Regions from separate parts of the Homo sapiens genome. Here all the other regions are linked to region 2. Evidence: fine-mapped expression QTL. A gene starts in region 2. Each other region holds a variant in brackets. All regions are shown on one strand. Distances are between the middles of the regions.

Region 1 (8,560 bases), 68 kb before region 2:
TAACCGATTTCATTTGTTTATTGGGTATTTCTCCTACTAGAATAGAAGTCCATGAGGATTGGTGGGTTTTGTTTCTGGTTTTGAATTTTCTGCTTATTCTTAGCACCTGCAACAGTTTTCTGGCACCCAGGATATTTGACTAAATGAATGAACAAGCAAGTGAATTAATAGATGAGGTAATACCGGGATAAACCATGTTACAAATAACCAGAGTAAGTGACAATTTGCCTTGAGGGATTTGAGGGAGAATTTGATCAGATGCCTGGCTCAAATACAGATACCCTCCCATTTCATTTTTAAATATATTTTCCTTTAGGACTTGAGTACTTTCCCATATTCTCAAAAAGAGTCCTCTTTTAAAAAATAGATATATTGCCGGGTGCAGTGGCTCATGCCTGTAATCCCAGCACTTTGGGAGGCTGAGGTGGGCAGATCACCTGAGGTCAGGAGTTCGAGACCAGCCTGATCAACATGGAGAAACCTCATCTCTACTAAAAGTACGAAATTAGCCAGGCATGGTGACATGCACCTGTAATCCCTGCTACTCGGGAGGCTGAGGCAGGAGAATCTCTTGAACCAGGGAGGTGGAGGTTTCAGTGAGCCAAGATCATGCCATTGCACTCCAGCCTGGGCAACAAGAGTGAAACTCTGTCTCAAAAAAAAAAAAATAGATATATTACCCCCATTATGAACCTTCTGACATGGTACACCAGGAAGGACTCAACATCGCTTCTGTGGCATTCCTATCAAAAATGCATACTCTGAATCTAATCATGAGGAAACATGAGACAAACTCCAACTGAGGAACAGTCTACAACTGGCCTTTTCAAAATATCAAGATCATGGAAGTTAAGGACTAAAGAACTGTTCCAGTTTAAAAAAGACTAAGGAGACATGCCAACTAAGTATGAAGAGTGTTCCTGGACTGGGTCTTGGAACAGACGGAAAAGACTTCAGAAACATTATGGAGACAATTTATGAAATTTAATATGGGCCATAAACTTAATATGAATAAGAATATTGTATCAATGTTAAATTTCCTTGTTTTGATCATTAGACTGCAGTTATGTAATCTCTTACATCAGAGATTTCTTTTGTGTCTTAGAAAATACACATTGAAGTATTTAGTGGTAAAGAGGCATGATGTCTGCAACTTACTCTCAAATGGGCCAGAAAAAAATATACATCATATATATCCATATACACATGTAAGTAAAGAGAGCAAGCACTTGACAAAATAAATAGAGCAAAATCTGGGTAAAGGGTAAACTGGAGTTACTTATACTATTTTTGTAACTTTCTGCAACTTAGTATTATATCAAAGTAAAAATTTACAAATAAGTATACGTATATTCCTAGGGTGAGTCATACATGAGCATCTCAGGTAATACCTTCATTACAAGTTATTCAGTAGCTGAGAGCAAGAACTGGACACTCTCACTTTTGTTACTTCTTCACCCCAACCTGAGGACCCCCACATGAAGATGAGGAAGAAGTGGAAGACATTAAATTCAAACTTCACCTACATCACCGTTTTGCCTTGGACCCAGTGACTTTTACAGAAACAAATTGAGACACAGAGAAGTTACATAGATTAAAAGATAGAAATACGGGTTAGGGCCAGGCAAGGTGGCTCACACCTGTAATCCTAGCACTTTGGGAGGCCGAGGCAGGTGGATTGCCTGAGCTCAGGAGTTCGAGACCAGCCTGGGCAACATGGCAAAATCCTGCCTCTACTGAAAATACAAAATATTAGCCAGGCATGGTGTTGCATGCCTGTAATCCCAGCTACTCAGGAGGCTGAGGCAGGAGAATCTCTTGAACCTGGGAGGCGGAGGTTGCAGTGAGCCAAGATCATGCCACTGCACTCCAGCTTGGGTAACAGAGCAAGACTCCTGTCTTAAAAAGAAAGAAAGAAATACAGCTTGGGGTGGCAACTCACACCTGTAAGTCCAGACCTCTGGAAGGTTGGAGCAGGAGGATCTCTTGAGTCCAGGAGTTCGAGACCAGCCTGGGCAACATAGTGAGACCTTATCTTTACAAAAAAAATTAAAAATTAGCTGGGCATGGTGGTTCACACCTATAGTGCCAGCTACTCAGGAGGTTGAGGTGGGAGGATCAGTTGAGCCCAGGAGGTAGAGGTTGATCAGTCCACTGATGATAGCTCACTGCACTCCAACCTGGGCAAGACAGCAAGACCCTGTCTCAATAAATAAATAAGTAAGTTAAAAAGTAGGAATATATAAACAGTTAACCAGACAGGCTACACAGAGAAATGACCAAACTATTTTCTTAACCCTTATACATTATGAGATTTAATGTGTTAATACTTATAAAACCCTGAAGTCATCTGACAAAATGTACCCTAAGCTTGCCTTTTATTATCCTGAGATAAGGAATTACTTGACAATGAACATCGTTTCTGACTTTTTTATGACAGTATAATTGGTTGACATTAGTTTAATAAATATCAGTCACAATTTTCAAAATAGGCCCTGATTTTATGGCTGCCTTTGGTGATGTTTGGAACATGCCATCTCTTGCGCTATTAAGTTTACAGATTATTCTGTGTATTGTTCTGTTAGCAAGAACCCTAGCAACACAAGTCTTGATGTCTGAAGTTAACTAAGTGCAAGAAAGCACCTTATCTTATAACAACTTGCATTCCTCAAACATCTGAGCTTCTGTTGAGTGTCCTCAGTAATCATCAACCCTAAAGTAACCCTTGAGCAAGGGAAAGTAGGGTGTTGGAAAGGAGCTGGGGCAGCTGAAGCCCACGACAAAAAAAAAAAAAAAAAAAAAAAAAAAAAAAAGATGCCAAAAGTGCCAGTCATCAAAACTCTTGAGTGCTGTAATGAACGCTCCAGGGAGCATTGTAGTTGGGAGAATGATTCAGCAGTGGCTGACTCTAGGCTACATGGACAGATTCAACGAAGTTTATGGTCAAAAGCATTGCACTGGCTGGAGGCAGAGGAGGTGTGTGGTTTGTAACAGAAAAAGGCATTTGTCCTCCTTACATCATATTACCCTGTGTTATTACTCTCTGCCCCTCTCAAATATATCAACACGAAAGCTCTGTGACCTAAAGATGAAAAGAAATCATTTGCAAAGGTCAAACATTTTTGTGTTATGAAACACAAAAGTCTATGAAATCCACCACATACATTGTGAAACCAAAGTCAAGGTTCTATTTATTCTGTGCCAGTTCAGTGTAGGAAGAAAAAGAAGTGATGAGGCATATTTTTAAAGACAAAAAACTTAAAAAAAATGGACAAAATTATGACTGCAGACATGTGGAGAGTCCTATCTACACCCTGTCAGATGGTCCAAACACTCCACTCCCAACCATTTAGCCAAACTTTGCATCTGTTTATGGCTACATCTAGGAAATCAAAAGCAGATGACAACATCATCACTGCAGCCAATGTTTGTAGCAAATATTCCTTCTCTCCAAAGGCTTAGAAATTTGTGAACGTGGAGCCAGGAAGACGGAATCATAATTAAATGCAGATGTGCTATCATGTTATGCTATTATGCACCTAAAAGAAACAATGACCTGGAGTGCAAAACCAGTGTCTCCCTGAGAGAGCCCCAGATGGCACAGTCGGGCTAAGGACAGATTTCACTGTGGGGACCTGGCTGTGAAGGAAGGCCTAGAAGGAAACTAAAGAGATAAACATTGAGATTAGAGAGTCTACCTTCGTCAATTTAAAAAAAGAAGAAACAAAGATATTAGAGAAAACTCATATTGATCAAGACTAGATCTCAGTTCTGAAATTCGGAGGAAAGTACTGTTTGTCCAGAATAAAAGGAGGGAATTTGCAAAATCCAAAGAATAGTGGATAAGGCATGGATTAAAATAGCTTCAGGCCAGGCACAGTGGCTCACTCCTGTAATCCCAACACTTTGGGAGGCAGAAGCTAGAGGATCGCTTGAGCCCAGGAGTTTGAGACCAGCCTGGGCAACATAGTGAGACCCTGTCTCTAAAAAAAAAAATTAAAAATTAGCTGAGCATCATTGCACACGCCTGTAGTCCCAGTTACTCCAGAGGCTAAGGTGGGAGGATTGCTTGAGCCTAGGAGGTTGAGGCTGCCGTGAGCTGTGATTGTGCCACTACACTCCAGCCTGGGTGACAGAGTGAGACCCTGTCTCAAAAACAACAAATAAACAAAAAATAGCAGCTTCAGTAGAAGCACATTTATCCAGAGGTGGAGGGAAGGAGGCCTGGCTACAAGAAACCTTCATGCTCAACTGGCAAATTCAGCTCTGATTGTAAAGCATAAAAGGAAGTATTTTTAGAGCAATACTTACTCAGGAAACAGTAAAACTGAACATTGTGTTTCATCATAACTGGCTCTAACTTGCTGTGGCTGATTAGGACCATAAATTTTGAGTGATTCAGGTATGCCAGACCCTCAAAGAATCTAACTGAAAACTGTTTATTGACCAATGAACCACAGGACTTGTTTTAACCAACATACAGGCCTGTGGACTCTTTCCTCTCTATCCACAGTGCTAGTTTTCAATCCTTAATTTGTGGCCGTTAACAACCGCTGATTTGT[A/C]CCCCCTCAGTGAAACTACTCAATCGACTTTTTTCTATAAAATATATTCCATTGTCTGGCAAGTTTTAAAAAAACACTTGATTTTTTTTAAGCACTGAGGACCTTTATATATATTTTTTTTTCAATATTTTATATATATTTTCAATAGCTTTAGGGGTACAAGTGGTTTTTGGTTTCATGGATAAATTGTATAGTGGTGAAGTCTGAATTTTCAGTGCACCCATCACCCAAGTAGTGTTCTTTGTACCCAATAAGCAGTTTGCCATCCCTCATTTCACTTCCACCCTCCCCCTTCTGAGTCTCAAATGTTCGTTATACCACTCTGTATGTCCTTGCATACACATAGCTTAGCTCCCACTTACAAGTGAGAAAACATGTGGTATTTGGTTTTCCACTCTTGAGTTACTTCACTTAGAATAATGGCCTCCAGTTTCATCCAATTTCCTGCAGAAGACCTTCTTTTGTTCTTTTTTATGACTGAGTAGCATTCCATGGTGTATGTAGACCATATTTTCTTTATCCATTCATCAGTTGACGAGCATTTAGGTTGATTCCGTATCTTTGCAATTGTGAATTGTGCTGCAGTAAACATATACATGCATGTATCTTTTTGATTTAATGACTTTTTTTTTCCTTTGAGTAAATAGCCAGTTGTGGGATTGCCAGATTGAATAGTAGATCTACTTTTAGTTTTTCAAGAAACTTCCATACTCTTTTCTGTAGAGGTTGTATTAATTTACATTCCCACCAGTAGCATATAAGAATTCCTTTTTCACCACATCCTTACCAACATCTGTTGTTTTTTGACTTTTTAATAATAGCCATTTTGGCTGGGGTAGGTGATATCTCATTGTGGTTTTAATTTGCATTCCCCGATGATTAGTAATGTTGCACTTTTTAAAAATATGTTTGTTGACCATTTGTATATCTTCTTTTGAGAAATGTCTATTCATGTTCTTTGCCCACTTTTTGATGGGATTATTTGCTTTTTTCTTGCTGATTTGTTTGAATTCCTTGTCGATTCTGGATATAAATCCTTTGTTGGATGCATGGTTTGCAACTATTCTCTCCCATTCTGTGGATTGTATGTTTACTCTGATTATTATTATTATTATTGCTGTACAGAAGCTTTTTCGTTTTTGTTGCATTTGCTTTTGGGGTCAGTCATAAATTTTTTATGTTAACCAATGTCCAGAGGAGTTTTTTCAAGGTTTTCTTCTAGAATTTTTATGGTTTCAGGTCTTAAAGATCTTAATCAAATATCTTTTTTAAAAAAGAGGAACGTGAACAAGAAAGATAAAGGATGATGTGTGTAAAAAGCTAAAGGTGACTGTAGCCCCTAAAAGCTGTATAAAGAAGGGTAGGGTTTGGAAAGTGCCAGCTAATGCTTCCCCATCCCAGGTGTGAGGCAAGGACAATGGAAGGGATGTGAGTACACAGGGATCATTAAGAGACATGTGGCCTCTTTGGATGTAATTCCTGGAGTCCCAGCCACCACTACTGGCCCCTACCTCCATCCCAATGCTTTGGATTTCCTGGTTACAACAGCAGTGGGAAAACTGAAAATCCATTCTTTTTTTTTTTTTTTTTTTTTTTTGAGATGGTGTCTTACTCTGTCACCCAAGCTGAAGTTCAGTGACACCATCTTGGCTCACTGCAACCTCCACCTCCGGATTCAAGTGATTCTCATGCCTCAGCGTCCCATGTAGCTGGGATTACAGGCACCCACCCCCATGCCCAGCTAATTTTTGTATTTTTAGTGGAGACAGGGCTTCACCATGTTAGCCAGGCTGGTCTCAAACTCCTGACTTCAGGTGATCCACCCACCTTGGCCTCCCAAAGTGCTAGGATTACAGGCATGTCTGGCCTGAAAAGCCATTCTTGCAAGAGCTGTTGGTTCGACTCTTCACTTGGAGTCCAGGTTTCTACTGCCAGGGGCACCACCACATCCTGGCATCTCTCCTAATACCACACCATCGTCACCATGGCAACTGTTGCCTCCTCTCGTTTAGTTGCCATCACCTCCACAAGCTTTCACCGCCCCAGTGAGGTACCTCTCCCAATCATGTTGATGTGCCCACAGTACAGGGAGACCAACCATCCTGGTTTACCTGGGACAGAGGGGTTTCCTGGGATGTGGGACTTTCAGTGTTAAAATGGGAAAAGTCCCTGGCAAATCAGGATAGTTGGTCACCTTACCACCATAGTTGCCACAACTGCCACCGCCACTGACTGTGTCTTTGAAGTCGAGGTGGGAACAGTGGAGCATACTTCTGTCCTATGAAACAGTGCTAGGGCAGCTTTTACTTCCACCTTGAGTGCCCTGCCAAGCCCTCAGGGGAAATTCACACATCTCCATTTCCTTGAATGGAATCACGCAACCCTAGGAGGCTGCACTGCCTTCCCTCAGGCCATTTCTCGGTGACAGCTGTGTCCACCCCACTGTCACCCCAGCGATGTTGGCTCCAGGCTGAATCTGCCCATCTTTCCCGCTCCGTTATCTCTGAGGAGGACCTTCACCACACAACCTGAGGAAGGCAAACTGGACTTAAAACTTACTGCAATTGTCTATACGTGTGCACCAATACAATCCATAGAATACTCATGATTTTTAACTGTAAAATCTGCTCAAGTGTTATGCTAAAAGGGTGGAGAAATAATACTTTCAGATAGTTTTTTTCAAAAGAAAGAATGAAATATTTAAAAGAGAAATTTGTTAATCTCACCAAAAGCCTCTTTTTAAAAAAATTGAAATGATACTAATATGCTGTTTTTTATAAAGCCATATATATTCCCTTCAAGTGCTTTAGAAAATAGAGAAAATCATATAAATTTAACCTCCCAAAATCACCCCCAAATTTTACCATCCCAAGATAACCATTGTTAATATTTTTTCACAATTTGATGAATACTCTTCTAGTTTTATCTATGAATGTTTATGCACTTAAATATAGAAGGCTTTAAATAAAATGAGATCATATATATTATTTACAAATATTACATATATACATACTATATAACTTGTGCTTCTCACTTAATATGTCATAAACATCTTTCCATGTTGACAAATAAAAATCTCCATGATCGTTTTTAATGGCTACATGATATCCCATGTATTCCACAGTATTCCATGGATGTTTATTCTAGGCCTTCTTAGCTGCGGTAGATAGCAGCAGAAATTCTCCAAAGAGAAGCTTTTAAGAAAGCATTTTTCTTAACGGCTGCCTCCACTTCATTGCAGTGTTGACATCTCTTAAAAGCCTGCCAAAACTCCAATTCCCACAGTTGTTTACAGAGTAGCCCATAAAATAAGATATCTGAAATGGCATCTTTATCAAACATCACCAAAAAGAGGAAATAGAAAACCCAGAGGCACTCTGGTCTAATAGCCGTGATTCTTGTAAGTAGACTATTCCAGAAAACAAAAACAAAGAGGGGAAAGTAACTGAACTTCCAAACACTGGCAGTGCAATCCAAAGAGGTGAAAAGCAAATTCACATGAGCTGAATAAAGAAACTAGCAATCAGGAAGGAAGCACAGGGGAAATCACAAAAGAAAGCAGAAGAGCAGCCCTTGAGATAAGAAAAAGGAGGCAAACATGAGAAGGGTTCTTCAGAACTTGGAGATCACTGTAGATAACAGCAGAAGCACGGCCCGGCACCGTGGCTAATGCCTGTAATCCCAGCACATTGGGAGGCCAAGGTGGGCAGATTACCTGAAGTCAAGAGTTCGAGACCCACATGGCCAACATGGTGAAAACCCATCTCTACTAAAAATACAAAAATTAGCGGGGCATGGTGGCACGTGCCTGTAATCCCAGCTACTCGGAAGGCTGAGGCAGGAGAATCACTTGAACTTGGGAGGCAGAGGTTGCAGTGAGCCGAGATCACGTCACTGCACTCCAGCCTGAGTGACAGAGTGAGACTTCATCTCGAAAAAAAAAAAAAAACACCAAGCAGATGCATGAAGAAAGAGAAACAAAGGTATAGGAAACAAAT
Region 2 (8,491 bases):
TGGGCAACATGGCAAAATCCTGTCACTATCAAAAATACAAGGAATTAGCTGGGCGTGGTGGCGTGCACCTGTGGTCCCAGCTACTCAGGAGGCTGAGGTGGGAGGACCACTTGAGTTAAGGAGGCAGAGGTTGCAGTAAGCCAAGATCATACCACTGCACTACAGCCTGAGTGACAGTGAGACCCCATCTCAAAAATAATTAATTAATTAAAATTTAAGACTCAGTTCTTCAGTCACAATAGCTAGATTTCAAGTTGCAGCCACAAGTGGTTAGTGGCTTCTGTATTTGATAGCACAGATATGGAACCTTTTTCTTTATCTCAGAAAGTTCTATCAGACAGTCCTGCCTAGAGGCATTGACCCTCTCTCCAGAATATGCAAATATGTACTCATATTAAAAATGTTGTAGGCAATTTTAGGTGATTCAAAGACACTCCCCACTTCCTAAGCCCACCTCCCCAAGGTGTTAGGAACCCCTTTCTGATGTGGGTGGGGGCTGGGCATAGTGGCTCATGCCTGTAATTCCCACACTTTGGGAGGCTGAGGCGGGCAGATCACTTAAGGTCAGAAGTTTGAGACCAGCCTGGCCAGTATGGTGAACCCGTCTCTACTAAAAACACAAAAATTAGCCAGAAGTGGTGGCACATGCCTGTAGTCCCCACTACTTGGTAGGCTGAGGCAGGAGAATCTCTTGAACCTGGGAGGTGGAGGTTTCAGTGAGCCGAGATAGCACCACTGCACTTCAGCCTGAATGACAGAGTGGGACTCTGTCTCAAAAATAATAATAATATGGATGGGGAGCACATGACTCTCCTAAAGTCTATGGAGGAGGCAGGTATCAGGAAAATCTCAGTTCAGATGTCAGTAATCCTTTTCCCTTAACACACAGTCTTAAGCACCTGCTGGTTCCTTGAGAGTTTAAAAAGAAACCTAGCTGTTCATTACATTGCCCCATTCATCCTGTTAGTTTCATTCATTCACTTATTCAATATTTATTGAGCTCCTACTTTACGCTCATACTGACCTAGGCAATGGGATACAAAAGTGAACTCAATGGAGAAGATCCCTTCCCTCATGGAGCTTATATTCTTGTAGGACAGAAAGACAACCAACAAACAAGCAGGTAATGCTCTCTGCTCTATAAACTTAGTTTTCTCCAATTAATTTCAAATCTATTTCTGTAAGCCTGAACATGTTAATTCTCTGCTTAAAGACATTCCCTCCTGACTAGGAGAGTTGATTAAAACCACCTGTGGGAGTTAAAGATCTACATCTGCCAAATGCACTGAAGGTGATCCACAAACTAAATTAAAATTTGGCCACTCTCCAAAGTCAAGGCCATAATCTACCTTTCTCATGAGACAGTTCTGTCTGTAAATAGTTGGGATTATAACACCCTCACTTTCAAGGTAAATTCCAGGGTATTTTATCTCCTAATTTCCAGATTGTTTTTGATTGTGTAAGCACATAGAAGACCTCACACCAGGTAAAGTTTCTAAAGTTTACTTCAAGCTACCTCTGTTACATGATTTTTGCGTGGGTAATCCGAGATCTGCTTCTTAATTGTCAACTCCACTTGGAATTGTTCCAATGTTTGCCAGTGTTCTGTTATGTTCTTTTCTCCTTGTCCAGCTTAATGACAGCTGTTTTTCTTCAAAAACAATGTTTCTTCAAAAATAATGTTTGGGTAAGGCCCGAGTTGGGATGACATTTTCTCTTAATATAATTTGCATTCTTAAAATCAAACACATTACCAGCAGATTGGCTTAACTGAACACATGCACGTATATATAAGAAACCATGTCCTTTCTTTCCTTGACCCAAAGTTTTGTATTTCACCACACTGGCCAACTCCCAAAAGTTGAACTGAAATCAAAGAATTGGTTCATTCTAAGATGGCTGGATATATATATATATATATATATATATATATATATATATATATATTCATCTCTATCTATCTTCCTCCTATTCTTTTTCCCATATCACACAAAACACAAACACAGACACATTCTGGGTTTACTTGGTACTGCCAGTCCTCAGGCTGACTAGAAGACTGAGGAAAATTTGAAAGACAAGAGATCTATCTACAGTCTTTCCTAACTTCCTAGTCCCTTTACCAGATTTTTCCATGAGGATTTGTCTTCCTTTTTTCCTTGAGGAAGCCAACTCTTGAGGGCTACAAAACACTTATTTCAGCATGTGTCTCTAAAAGATAAGAACATTTGATAAATATAACCACACTACCATTACCACATCAAAAAAAAAAAAACAGTTATTCTTTAAGAGCAAACATCGAGGCAGTGTTCCTAATGGTTTCATAATGTCAAATGTTTACTGGCTTTTTAAAACAAATTCAAAATACACATAAGTTCCACACCTTGTAATTGGTTATTATGTCTTTCAAGTCTCTTTAAATGTGTAGGTCTTCTCTCCATCTCTTTCTTTCCTTGAAACTTATTTATTAAAGAAACTCAGTTGTTTGTTCAGAAGCATTTCCCATGGCTGAATTTTGCATAATATATCTTCATGTTGCAGGTCAACATTCACAGGATTCTCAGATTCAGTTGGAGGCATGTTTGATTATCTACACTTTAAGTCATCAAGTAATTTGAATATATTAATATAAATCCCATAGGCTCTTTTTCCCACTCCAGATGATTCCTCCAATAACCTTTCATTCAGTAAGTTCCCCGTTGTAAATTTCCAGTTAAGTAATTCTCTTTAGGTTTGATGGGTGCGCACAACGAAGAAAAGGGGGGACAGGGAAACCTTTCTGAAATTCATTTCCTTTGAATATATCCATTAGAGGGCGACATTGCCTTTAATATTATATTTCCCCAATAAAGTTTTAAATTGCATAAAATTTACTTTTGTATTTTTGACAAGTTGGACCTCATTGCCTACTTTAATTTCTAATCTCACGTCTGTAAAGTGTGACTGCATTCTCCTTTGTTAGTTTGATCTCTGCTGACTTGCGTCTTTGGTATTACAGTACTTCCATCTTTGACTCTGTTCCCAATTCTAACCATCGGGCGGCGATGTTGCATAAATAAAGACCCGCGGAAAGGCAAAATTAAGCGAAACTGCCAAATAAAAAGCAGTTTCACCGGGGGTAAAGGCCATTAATTTAAGAAGGAAAGAGACAAACCAGACATTTCTAGTTCATATCCAACTCACGGCCCAAGGTCAGAACTGTGTAAAATGCAACACAAAGGAGCCATTCAGGAGTGGGGGAGGCTGACTTGGGGAGAGCGAATGCACAATCCCCGCCTTGAGCCTGCGGTTCCACTGGAGGGGGCACAGGTCCGTTTGCGCACGTGCGTGTGAGTAGCCACAGGGCAGCGGCGGGACATGCCTGCACCGGGCATGGGACTGCTGAACCAACAGCGCTCTGGCGGACCGTTTGGGACACCCGCCCGGAGGCAGGTTGGCACTGGCGCTGCCTGGAGGTCAGCCACTCATTGTACCCCGGAGGAACTGGGTCCCGCGGGGGCATACGGCTCGCCCACCGGCACGCGTTAGGAGGCGAACACCTGCATCCAGCTAGGTGTTCCGAGCTCAGCCCAGGGCGAGGGACTGCTCTGCCACCTTCTTCTCATTCTTCCTGTAAGAACACTGTCTATCTCGGACAAAAAGGACCCACCTGACAGCAAGTGGTATCGTCACACAGAGGTAACAGGGAAGTCACGGATCCTCTTGAGAATCTGACAAAAGTTGGTGCCCCTTCCCCATAGTGGCACTCAGAAAACTGCAGGTGAAACCACAAATGGGCGGAGGCACTCACAGGCTTCCTGGGGCCCGTCCATTGATCAGATACCAGGTTAAGAAATTCTGTCCTTATTGGAGCCTAGACGGCAGCGCAAAGGAACCAGACGGACTTGGAAAGAGAGGCAGGGACTCCCTCCTCCCTCCAAACACAGCCAGCGTTTCATCTCGGATTGCGGGAGGGGCCTGGCGGAAGGTGGAGGAGAGGTGGAGCGCCTGGATGGGGCCCTCCCCATTCTCCTGGCCCCAACCCCAGGACGCCTGGCTGCGGAGGGCTCGAAAGCGAGCAGCGAACGCCCAAAGCCTGGGTGGCGGGAAGGTGGCAGCGCCCTGTAGCTTTTCCTTTGCATTTTTCTTTAAATCGTGAGCTCCGGAGCTATCGTTTCGACCGCTGCTTTCCGGTCTCCACCTCCACCTCCCAGTTGGCTGGCTCGCCCTTCCCCCACCCCCCCATCCCCCCCATCCCCCCCCATCCCCACCCCCATCCCAGCCGCGTGCCCGACCCTCGGCCTCCAGCCCCGCCTCCTTCGCCGCGGGGTTTAACCCGAGGCAGAGTGAAATCTGCATAGTGACCGCCCCCTCGGAGATCATTGGTGCAGCCCCGCCCATCGCGGCCGGTGATTGGTAAGCCGCCCGGGGTTATTTGCATGTCGGACGCAGCCGGGTACCCAGCTGTGCTGCCGGCCGGCGCAGCGCAGAAGTTTGCAGAGCGCTTTCTCGCCGGCTGGTCCCGGACTCGCGCTGCGCCCTGCGCCCTGCGCCGCCGCCTCCTCCTTCTGCCGCCGCCGCCCTGTTCTCCCGGGATTCCTTCTCTGTGGAGGACTGACTCTCTGCTTGTGGGAATTAGAGGTGGACAAGGGGGAGTGCCGGGGGGTAGCGACGGGGTTCTTTCCAGTGGCAGCTGCGAGTCGGGACGCCGGGAGCGTGGGGCTCCTGCTGGCCACGGATCTCGGCCACCTTCCCGCGGCCTCCGGGCAGGCAATGCGGCCGCCGAGCCCCGCGACGCAGAGAGGAAGGAGGGTGGCCCGGAGGGCCTAGAGCTTGTTTCTGCCCACTTGGGAAAGAGGGCATGGAGTTGTGAGTGCCCCTCGCTCGGCGACGCCGCCCTCGGCAGGCTCCCCATGGCCGGGACGTACAGCTCGACTCTGAAGACGCTGGAGGACTTGACCTTGGACTCCGGGTATGGGGCCGGGGACTCGTGCCGCTCGCTCAGCCTCTCGTCCTCCAAGTCCAACTCGCAGGCGCTCAACTCTTCGGCGCAGCAGCACCGCGGGGCGGCCTGGTGGTGCTACTCCGGCTCCATGAACAGCCGCCACAACAGCTGGGACACGGTGAACACGGTGCTGCCCGAGGACCCCGAAGTGGCCGACCTCTTCTCGCGCTGTCCGCGGCTCCCCGAGCTGGAGGAGTTCCCCTGGACCGAAGGAGACGTGGCCCGGGTGCTCCGCAAAGGCGCTGGCGGCCGGCGGCTGCCCCAGTTCTCCGCCGAGGCGGTGAGGCGCCTGGCCGGGCTGCTCCGCAGGGCACTGATCCGCGTGGCCCGCGAGGCGCAGCGCCTGAGCGTGCTGCACGCCAAGTGCACCCGCTTTGAGGTGCAGAGCGCCGTGCGCCTGGTGCACAGCTGGGCGCTGGCCGAGAGCTGCGCGCTGGCAGCCGTCAAGGCGCTGTCCCTGTACAGCATGAGCGCCGGCGACGGGCTGCGCCGGGGCAAGTCCGCGCGCTGCGGCCTCACCTTCTCAGTGGGTCGCTTTTTCCGCTGGATGGTGGACACCCGAATCTCCGTGCGCATCCACGAGTACGCAGCCATCTCCCTCACCGCCTGCATGGAGAACCTGGTGGAGGAGATCCGGGCCAGGGTGATGGCCAGCCACAGCCCTGATGGCGGAGGGGCCGGAGGCGGGGAGGTGTCTGCTGAGGCCCTGGAGATGGTCATCAACAACGACGCCGAGCTCTGGGGCGTCTTGCAGCCCTATGAGCATCTCATCTGCGGCAAGAACGCCAATGGTAAGCGCGCGGGCCTCGGACTGGCAGACTGGGTAGGCAAGAAATCCCGCCCTGGGCTACTGGGGGAGTGAATTTCCTGAGACAAAGCTGGTGGCTGTGCCAGTTCTTTGGGAGAAAACGTTTGGTCTGAGGATAGGGTTCATTACATGGCACTTGCCAGAGATTGTTCTAAGGGTGTCTGACTTTTGGAGGGTAAACTTGTGAATGATCTCCATCCTGTTCTGCGTGGCATTGTTACTATCTGCGGGCTGTTCATTGATTGGGTGAGATTGAATCTCTTGACCAAGCCATTCCTGAACCTCTCTTGAAATGAAACTTACTGCCCCGTGGCTCTTTACCGTGATTGACTAGGTCTCTAGCTGCTGTCTTTCCCCAACAGCTGGTTAGATTGACTGATTCTGCCCCCTAGTTTTCCCCAGCTCAATAGCAGCAACCAAAGGGTCCCAACTTAAAGACCTGAACCTTGGATAAGTAAGATGGGCGGAGGGAAGTGGGAAGCCCAAGATCTGGTGCTGCGCCTTGTGCTTTGCTGGGCTGAAGGATGCTGTCAGGCGCTCTCTTGGGGGATGGAGGGGTAGTGGTTCGCTCTTACCTATATGTGCCCAGGAATGATGAAACCTGGGGACCCCGACTCCCCTTCCCAGAAAAGTAACCACAGATTGTCTCCTGAGACCTGATTTTTCCAAGCTGTCACCAACCAAGTGAGCCATTGGTTAAAACCTTGCATTGTATTAAATGTTCTTTCCTGAAAAGAGTGGTGGCCCATCAAGGGGAAGAGATAGGTAACCGCATGGGGTCAAGTCTGGGAAAGGAACCATTGGGTGGTTGCACTTCCCTGAAGATAGCATGGATTTGGTGCAAAGGATGGAAACAAAGCACATGACCTTTTCCCTGACAATGTTAGGGGGTGTGACATTGCATTCAACTGCAAACTACCTACAAGACTTCAGTTTGAGAAGTCAGCACCATAAACTGTTCAGAATGGTATTATGGTTAAACAGCCTTACGATCTGATTGGAAGGCCATTTGGGGGGCAGCTTTCAGTGGCAAATAAGCAGGCAGTGGAAGAGGTCAGGTGGGGACTGGAAAGGGATAAAAGAAGTCAAAACATGGTTTAACATAATCATAATAGCTGAAATGCAAAATAACCCTTAATGTGTCGTCATTATTCTCAGCACTTTGTATTTAACTCAAGTACTCCTAGCAAGCCTATTAGGTAGGTACTTACTGCATAGTATGATGCCCATTTTACAGATAAGGAAACCAAGGTACCCAGCAGTTAAATAATCTGCCCAACATTACATAGATGTTAAATGGCAAAACTGGAATTTGAATCCAGTTTGAATCCAGGTAGGCCCCTTTAAGGTTCTAGATGCTGGTGGAGAAGAAACAGCTTTGTTTTTCTGGTTTGTTGTTGTTGTTTGTTTGTTTGTTTTTCTTACTGGACTATAGCTCTCAGATCTTATGCTTTGTTTTTTGATTAGCCCAGTTTTCGAGAACAGTTGACATGTTAGGCCCATTTTGAAGACACTCTGTACCAAGCATGGCTTACTTTGACATTATTGGTTTTGTTTTTAAATTCTGGCACTGCCAAAGGAGATGCTGGGAATTGAAGAGCATCTGCTGCTTAATTTTCTTCCTCTTAGGTCAGAGCTAAGGTCAGTCCTGAATCTCAGTTGATGATGTCACAGCTGCTTGTTGTGCCTCACCCTCCAGGTTTGTGGCATCAACACTGGGAACAGCAGCTCCAGGGCAGGAAGTGGAGGGCCAGGGGATTTCCATCTCCAGTGGTCATAATTGAGGGAAAGAGTTCTGTACTTTTGGCTGAGAGGAGGCCCAAACTGAACTCAAAGAAGTAAAGGCAGGCTCCTAGGAGAAAAGACTGAAGACCTAACCCTATAAGCCAAACAAGAATAAGGGTGGAACTGTAAATGCAAAACAAAACAAAAACATATATTCATGCAGAACAGGTGCCCAGCACATTGAGAAGCTTCTCCCAGCTTTTCTAACTGCAAATTGAAATAAGGAAGACCAACTCCCTGCCCAGGACACCCTGAAGATGCGAAGTGGCCAGAAGCTGCTAGAAAACAGATGTCTTCTGCTAAAGGGCTTCCAACCAAAGAACTATTTCTTATCTAGGGTCAGCATTCCTTGGGATTTCCTTTATAAGTTGGTCTTTTGGCACCACCTACCCCCCCACCCCCACCCCCCAGCTCCACCACCACCTTTTGTTTTTTTAAATAGAGACAGGGTTTTGCTATGTTGCCCAGGCTGGTTTCAAACTCCTGGGCTCCAGCAGTCCTCCTGCCTCGGCCTCTCAAAATGTTGGGATTACAGGCGACAGGCGTGAGCCACCACACTCAGCCACGACCCCATGTTTTAACCTCCTCCTTGCCCCCCCTTTCCAAACAATCCTCCTTAATCCTGGGTAGTCAAGAGAGCAGGATTCTCTGTGGCAGACAACAAAGCTCCCCGGATGCTCAGAGTCAAAGTGTCTCCCTCTGTACCTTCTCGGGTCTCCAGGGAACTCTCTTGCAGGCGAGGTGACCATTCACTTCCACTTAGCAACTGGATGCTCATTTTTTATACATGAAAACCAGGGGGTGGCCACATTAAACAATAACCAGGCTGATTTATTAAGTCCCTTTAGACAAAGTGAAATGAATGTTTAGTAGAGGGGCAATGAATTACTTATGTCTGAAAGCTGGCTTCAGAGGGA
Region 3 (8,000 bases), 41 kb after region 2:
TCAGTAGTGAGCTGGGATTGCCCAGGGGAGATAAAGTTAGTCTGGTATGTTCTAGAGAGTTCCACGGACGTCTAATGTGGACACACGACACCCATATGCCTGCCTGTGGGGTAAGTCCTTCGTGAAGGTTAGGTGAGAGAATTCAAGAGGCAGCCAGCCCACCCAATGGCACCTTGAGCTTTCAAGTTCTACTTTGCTTTGGAGAAGAAATTCTACTGTGGTGAGGTATATCCATCCAAGTGACTTTTATCATAAATCTCTGTACACCTGTGGAGGCATTGAAATGGTCTACAGCTGAAATGGCCTTTTCAGCTCAGATCATCCAGGGATAAGGTTTTAATCATCAACCAGACTGCTTCGGCCACTGAGTACATTTTTAGGACCCTGCCTTCTGACTTCAATTCCCCCAGGAAATACAAAGCATTCAAATGTTAGCCCAAGGGTAACATCCTTAAGAAATAAAATCTGCTCTTTTCTCAAAACCTGAGTGCCTTCCAAAGCCAGAATTAAATTTCTATTTGGGTCATCTGTGCACATATTTTGGGGAGACATAAATCATATGCAGCTCTGTTAGAGATCTCAGGGAGTGAGCTGTGTGTTAAGAATAAAAATAAAATTAAGTAACGTGTGCTAATAGATTAGTATGTTTCAAGTACTGAACTAAATGCTTTATACTCACTAGCTCATTTTAATACACCTGCTCTCTAAAAAGTGGCCAGGCACGGTGGTCACGCCTGTAATCCCAGGACTTTGGAAGGCCAAGGTGGGTGGATCACCTGAGGTCAGGAGTTCGAGGCCAGGCACAGTGTCTCACACCTGTAATCCTAGCCCTTTGGGAGGCCGAGGTGGGTGGATCACCTAAGGTCAGGAGTTCGAGACCAGCCTGGCCAACATGGTGAAACCCATCTCTATTAAAAATACAAAAATTAGCTGGGCGTGGTGGTGCATGCCTGTAGTCCAACCTACTTGGGAGGCTGAGGCAGGAGAATCACTTGAACCTGGGAGGCAGAGGTTGCAGTGAGCAGAGATCACGCCACTGAACTCTAGCCTGGGTGCCAAAGTGAGACTTCATATAAAATAAAATAAATATAAAATAAAATAGTCCTGGTGTCTCATTTTCCAGCTGATAAAACAGAGGCTGGGAGGGGTTAAATAACTTACCACACAGTGTGAAGAGTGACAGTGGGAAGCTCACGCTCAGGTCTGGCTGACTCCACAGCCCGCCTTGGTAATGACTTCAGAGGTGACAGACAGCACTGCATATACTTGGTGTATGTTGGCTGTTCCCTTTTTGTCCCAAACCTGTCCTTGGCTTGGAGCTATCCCACACCTAGGTTTCTCCTCCCCTGCTGCCTAGATACTGGCCAGTGCAGGCATCAGCTGGTCCTGGTGGGACCTGCCCCTTTATGATAAAGCCAAAAGAGATCCCAGTAAGCTTTGGGGTCTCTTCTGACTTTATCACAAAGGGGGAGGTCTCTGTGACCTTCTTCACCTGGCTGTATAATGACCATCTGAAGTCGGTGGGGTTGTGGGGAAGAAGGCCTGAGCCAAGGCTTCTTGTGTGTCAGATCCAGGAAGCATTTTATTTCATTTCATTGCCTTTCCCTGGGTCATCTGTTGTAGAGTCTGAGGTGGTGTCTACTCCAGCGCTGTTCCTATTACTCTGTGGGGCTGACAAGATGTTATCCCCCAGCTCCAGGGGCCTTGGCCATCATCCTTGCTAAGACAGTGCCAGTCTCTGGCTCCAGGATTTCAGTCTGGAAAGAGGTGCCTTTGACATTACAGCTGACTCAGGCTAATAACTGGGCAGTTCCTTTGAAAGGCATGCAAGCTTCCTTCCTTAGCCCTGAGATGACACTTCTTGGTATTTCTCCATCAAAACATCTTGTTTCTCCAAACAGGGGGGTTTATAGATTACTTAGACTAGTGGTTAAGCTGCCCAAGGATGACCTGAGAGCAACATGCTGGATCCTTATCACATTATGGGTCACCTCCCAACTCAGAACATTGAGTTCTGACTCCCCAGCTGGCATTAAATGGAAAATAATCCTCTGGACTCTTGGACTCTGTACTTACTGGCTGATTCACAGTCTAGTAAAACCACCTTCTTTCAACTGCCTAGAAATCTAAGTTGGAATTTTTATTATGACGTCATTGTGTATTTAGTAGCTGAGACTCAGGTCCATCCTGGCCCTGCCACGAGCCAACTGAGTGTCCTTAGACCAGTCCCTTGGTCCCTCAGACCCCAAGCTTCCTCCTTGGGAAAGTGTTGAGAATGACTTTTCTAGATGGTCTCTGGGTTGCCTTTAAAATAAGTCATTCCTTGGAATCATGTCTTTTGCAGTAACATGGGTGGAGCTGGAGGCCATTATCCTAACTGAACTCAGAAGCAGAAAATCAAATATCACATGTTCTCATAAATGGGAGCTAAACAATGGGTATGCATGGACATAAAGATGGAAAAAATAGACACTAGGAACCAAAAAACGTGGAGCCAGGCACAGTGACTCATGCCTATAAATCCCAGCACTTTGGGAGTCTGAGGCAGATGGATCACCTGAGGTCAGGAGTTTGAGACTGGCCTGGCCAATGTGGCGAAAGCTTGTCTCTACTAAAAATGCAAAAAAATTAGCTGGGCATGGTGGCACATGCGTGTAGTCCCAGCTACTTGGGAGGCTGAGGCAGGAGAATTACTTGAACCCAGGAGCTGGAGGTTGCAGTGAGCCAAGATTGTGCCACTGTACTTCATCCAGCCTGGGTGACAGAGCGAGGCTATGTCTCAAAAAAGAGGTAGGGGAGGGGGACGTGGGGAGGGGAGGAGTGGGGGTGAGGGTTGAAAAATTACATATTAGGTAAAGTGTTCAATATTTGAATGATAGGTATGCTAGAAGCCCAATCCCCACCATTATGTGTGTAATACCCATGCAACAAACATGCACATGTATCCCCAAATCTGAAATTTTTTTAAAAAGCCGTTATTAATTTTTTTTTTTTTTTTTTGAGACAGGATTTTGCTCTGTTGCCTGGGCTGGAATGTGGTGACAACATCTTGGTGCACTGCAACCTCCGCCTCCCAGGCTCAAGTGATCCTCCCACCTCATCCTCTCAAGTAGCTGGGACTACAGGCACCTGACTAATTTTTGTATTTTTTTGTGGAGATGGAGTCTTGTCATGTTACCTAGGCTGGTCTTGAACTCCTATACTGAAGCGATCCTCCTGCTTCAGCCTCCCAGACTGCTGGGATTATAGGTGTAAGACACCATGCCTGGCCCATTCTTAATTTCGTTGACCAAGTGTTTCTCTTACTGTTTTCGCACTCTCATTGCCAGTGCCCCCTTATTGAGCAGTCTGTGGGCAGAGCGCAATCAAGGGAAAAATACAAGATGCGGGAGAGGAGACAAACCCCCAACTCCCTTGCCCAGGAAGATTATAGTCTCCAGGGTAGAAAGCCTGTAAACACTGTACTAATGATTGTGATGGAGATCTGAACAGAGGGCAGTGGAATCAGAGGGCAAGATTGCCTAAGCCAGGCTCATCAGGCATATCTAGAATATAAACAGATGGCACAGGTGACATGTTTAACTTACACAAGAGAGGTCATGTCTTTGTTAAACATCCAAAAACCTATGGCATGAAGTACCAAGGGTTCTTGCATGTGTCTCTGGTTGGAATTGTTCTAGTTCTGTTGGTTTTGTAGTCAGTTGCCTATGAGCAGAGCAGAATCAAACAGGCTTTGTGCCTCTACCGCCCTGAGTACCTCAGGCACAGTAGTTTTGAAGCAGACACTGATGGGGCTGGAGTGTTTCGTCCAGATCTTTCTGTTCTTTCCCATGTGCCTCCCGGGCTTCCCCAGTGAGGTCATTAGTGTGTCCAGGGTAAGAACTGTATCACAAGCTTCCCACATATCTTCTGTGCTACCACTGTCTTGGTCACACACAGGTCCTTTGTATACCCTTAATGTAGTCAATTAGGACAGGCTCAGCCAAGCTTTATTTATTCTTGGAAACTCTGTGTGTGCAGTTGTTATTGGTGCGGTTTTTATCACATTCAAGTACACACTGTATTTTTTTTTAAAAACATATTCTGGGGCTCATGGATTATCTTAAAGCTGGGCTTCAGCAGCACCAGTGGCAACAGCAACTTGGCCTTGGTATTTTCACTGCTCAGCCTTGTAGTTGATGATGAAATATTTGCGACAAACACGTTTGCCACTCGGTCACTGACAAGCCTGTGGGTTTTGGGGTAGCAAAAGAGCAGAGTGCAGGAAATGATCCAGTGAGTATCTTTTACCTCCCAGAGGAGCAGAAGGCTCAGCCCATCCACTGTGATTATAGTCAGAGCTGGGCTGGATCTGAAGTTGAGTTTAAAATGAAATCATTGCTGAAAGGCGAGTGCTAACCTACTGTGAGGAGTTCTTGTCTATCCAGAGAGCCCCAGTTTGCTGATGGTTGAAAGAAAGGATGAAAGGGAGCCATTTGCGACTTTTGCAGTGTCCGTATGATCCGTGCCACTGTGATGGCCAGAATCTGGGACTGACCACAAAACACAGCCTCACGTTGGGTGCTGTCAGTGAGGGCTGTCTCCCCTCCTCCTTGCCCAGGGACGGGGTGTCTGGAATGTTAGTTTCCTTGCTGCAGTGTGAGTGAAGCAGAGGAACATCGGCATTTTTAGCCTTGTTCTAGCAACCCTGGCCACTTGATCCCAAAGTTAGTTCTTGTCAAGTGTTGGATAAAACAAAGCAACA[T/C]ATTTTTTCTTTTGTTCTTAACATTTTAACTGCAAACATTTAATCAGCAGTTTGACGATGACTGGTTAGAAATTGCCGCATAAGCTCGCCTTGAAGAAGTTATGCTAAGCCACCTCAGGTTTCTCCACTGTGAGGGGTAGATGCCTGGCACCTGGCTGGCACAGGTGTTGGGAATTCTGTGTGTCAGAAGCACTGAGAGCCTGCCATGAAAGGCAGCTGGAAACCTGGGGGGTGGCTGCTCGTGTCATTTCTGATAGGAAAAGGGAAATTGAATTTAAGGAGACCTGCGCATTTCAGAACTATACTTACCACAGTAAAGCCTCCGGGCTACGGCCAGCCAGAATGTGCCCTTCTCTCCCTGCCCATGTCTGCTCAGCGCCGAGGGTGAGCTATGATTGGGGCAGGGGAGGAGGGATGGAGGAGACAGGCACTGGATGCCAGGAGAGGAGAATGGGAACCCAGAACACATCCCTGGAATCAATCTAATTGTTTCCATTCCTCCTCATGAATGATTGGGGCCTGTATTCCCCAGAGCTTTTTAGCTGCCCAATACAGCTTTCCTTTGTCTCAAAAACCTCCCAAAGATGGGCTTCTAAACCTCGGAAAGCCAAGCCCCAGACCCTCAGAGCCCCATGTCAGGATGGCCCCGGACACAGGTTATTTCAAATAGACTCATTTCTCCCCATCAGCTGAAACCAGTCAGCCTGAACTGGGCGTGTTTATTCAGTGAAACCCAGGAACCTCAGTGCCCTGGTTTTAATCAGGAGACTTGCTCTGTGGTAATTTGGGGCTCCTCGACCAAGGGTCTGGTCCCAGTTAGTTTCCAAATGCCAGGCGTGCTTGTTTCCACAGACAGTGTCTGCGCTCACGTGGCCTCATGCAAATGCACTGTCCAGAAGGCAGGCTCGCGCGAGTGCAGGCCTCTTTTTAATATGGAATTTTGAGCCCTTCTGGCGAGGACTTTTCCAGTCTTTGTTTTTTGAAAAGAGGGTAAGATAATCTGCAGCGGCCTTTCTGGGGAAGTCATTTGGAGTGTTGGGTTGGAGCTTGGCAACATGGAAACCATTAGGGCCATCACAGGGGCTGACTGTACCTTGTAAGTGCGGCATCACCCTCAGCCTCTCAGAACAGGGTTAGCCTCATGGACTCTCAGCCTGTGCTGTCACACAGGGCCCCCCACTCAGAAGGGCTCCACACTTGGCTTAATGATCAGCTATCACTGCCTTGAAATTCTTAATTTTTGAACAAGGAGCCTCCCATTTTCATTTTGATCTGGACCCTGAAAATTATCTAGCCAGTCCTTCTAAGAGGATCCAGGCACCAGCATCGGATACCAGGGGGAGGTTGAGCTCTGCCACTCACCAGTCATGAGCCCTTGGTCTGAGGGGACACTGACCTCCTAGCCTCAGTGTCCTCCTCTCAAAAGAGAGCCATCAGCACCTCTCCCTTGCAGCTGTGTGCAGAGAAGAAAAGATCATGCCCCTGTGGCACCTAGCACAGGTGTGTCACATGGTAGGTCCTTAAAACACACACATCTATTTGACTTTTCTAGTCATTCCTTTCTTCATGCAACAAATACTATTGAACATGGACTATGTGCCAAGCGCTGGCTCAGCCTTGGAGTACAGATACCCTAGTAAGAAAAACAGACCTGGTCCCGCCCTCATCGAGGTTAGAGTCTAATCTCTGACCCACTTAGTGAACAGGTTGCAGAAGCCTCTTCTCTGTTTCAGCATATCCGAGAAGAACAGCCTCAAGTCTGGTGAGACCAGCTGCTCTGGAAGATCTCTTGGGCATGCGACATGGCCATCTATCCAGCCTTCCACATGACCCTCGAGGGTTTTGGGGTGCTGGATATCAGGGAATTAAAGCCACCTGCATGGGAGTATCTCAGGTAGTAGTTTCCCTCATCACTCTGTGACCAGCATTAGCCCCTCTCCTTTGCTGTTGTAAATTTGGGGACCTCCAGCCCCCTCGGTTTCCAGAGCATGTTTATCCATTCACCACATAACAGGCAGCACCCACACCCTAGGACCGTGTGGGAGCCAGGTTGTGCCCTCCAACCTGCCCCACCTTGAAGGAGAACTCGGCCTTAACGTCAGCAGTGCTGGGGCAAGTCCCTTGCTGAGGACGGTGGGGAGGGCTTTTACACAGAGAATCTATGATTATAAGGGTGGTAAGAAATACTAGTAATAATAGTTGGACATAGTGAGTGTGTGTTCATCATCAGGCACTGAGTGCTTTACACAGATCCACTTGTTTCTCCGTAGAGTTGCAAAGTCCTATCATAACCTCTATTTTACAGATGAAGAAACTGAGGCAGGTGCGCCCTCCCAGTGGCATCTCTCCCACTTTCGTGGCATGGCTGATATCACCGTCTACATGAAATGTGTATTGTAACAACTCCATCTCTCAGGGCGTTTGAGATATTCTCCGCACATCCTCCTTGTCCAATGGTCTGGGTTACAATGACTGGGCTGTGTATGAGGCCAAAAGAGCTTCTGCTTCTCCGGGGAGCCTGGGCCCCAAGGGGCAGGAGGTGGCACTCTCTGGGGGGCCTGATGGTGGTGCAGGTTGCTGCTGGGGTTGCTGGCTTGCCTTCTCAGCCAGGTGGCTTGTAAGGAGCTACCATACACTTCAAAGAATGTGGTCAGACCACATCCTACCCAGGAGACAGCTGAGGTGCTCGGGAGCCGGCCCAATGGGACACTCCGTCTGTCCGGGAGCCAGCCTTTCAGAGCCAGCACCAGAAGCGGTTGGGGTGTCTGGTCATTCTGTTACTCCTCTTTCCACTGCTAGCTGCTCTCCAGCTGCTGACCTAATTCCAGGGAAGGTTCCAGAAACCCTTGAGCAAGAAAATGCACATGGGCTCCTGTATAAATTGTTCCACTGACAGTGAGCTATTGTTAACTCTTTCAGTTCCTGGACCATTTCTAAATCATGAATATAGATTTAATTTTAGTGCAGGTAGTTTCACTTGCTAAGAAATTGGGTCTTTTCTATTCTTTCTTTTTTCTTTTTTTCTTCTAAGAACATGGATTTTAGAATCATTTAGGCCTGTGTTTCAGGCCCCAGCTCTGCCACTTGCTAGCTTTGTAACCTAACACAAGTTACCCCTTCTGAGGCGATTTCTCCTATAAAATGAGAATAGTAGCCCAGCATAGTGGCACACGCCTGTAATCCCAGCACTTCGGAAGGCTGAGGTGAGAGGCTTGCCTGAGCCCAGGAGGTCAAGGCTGCAGTGAGCCATGATTGC

Direction of the effects. Positions count from the first base shown, and alleles are read on the strand shown. Sizes are in standard deviations (SD) of each study's normalised expression. Not every link is listed here.
With allele A in place of C in region 1, the expression in CD4 T cells of the gene that starts at base 4,463 in region 2 is higher (large effect, 1.5 SD a copy in BLUEPRINT).

What was found. PIP is the estimated chance that this variant, and not a neighbour inherited with it, causes the effect. A credible set is the group of variants that fine-mapping cannot tell apart.
Region 1: its variant is the best candidate, but not a certain one, in a credible set for the expression of ABTB2 in CD4 T cells (BLUEPRINT, PIP 0.55).
Region 3: its variant is the best candidate, but not a certain one, in a credible set for the expression of ABTB2 in whole blood (TOPMed, PIP 0.67).

Annotation. Positions count from the first base shown.
Region 1 is chr11:34,421,859-34,430,418 of GRCh38, reverse strand. No RefSeq gene overlaps it. Among named protein-coding and RNA genes, the nearest start is that of CAT, 13 kb to the left of the region's middle. The variant A/C (reference allele first, on the strand shown) is at 4,563.
Region 2 is chr11:34,353,982-34,362,472 of GRCh38, reverse strand. It overlaps ABTB2 (ankyrin repeat and BTB domain containing 2), which reads left to right and starts at 4,463. Exons shown (of 17, transcript NM_145804.3): 1 at 4,463-5,772. The coding sequence starts at 4,890. RefSeq lists a silencer at 4,278-4,477 and an enhancer at 5,428-5,537.
Region 3 is chr11:34,312,762-34,320,761 of GRCh38, reverse strand. All of the region lies in intron 1 of ABTB2 (ankyrin repeat and BTB domain containing 2), which reads left to right. Among named protein-coding and RNA genes, the nearest start is that of ABTB2, 41 kb to the left of the region's middle. The variant T/C (reference allele first, on the strand shown) is at 4,745.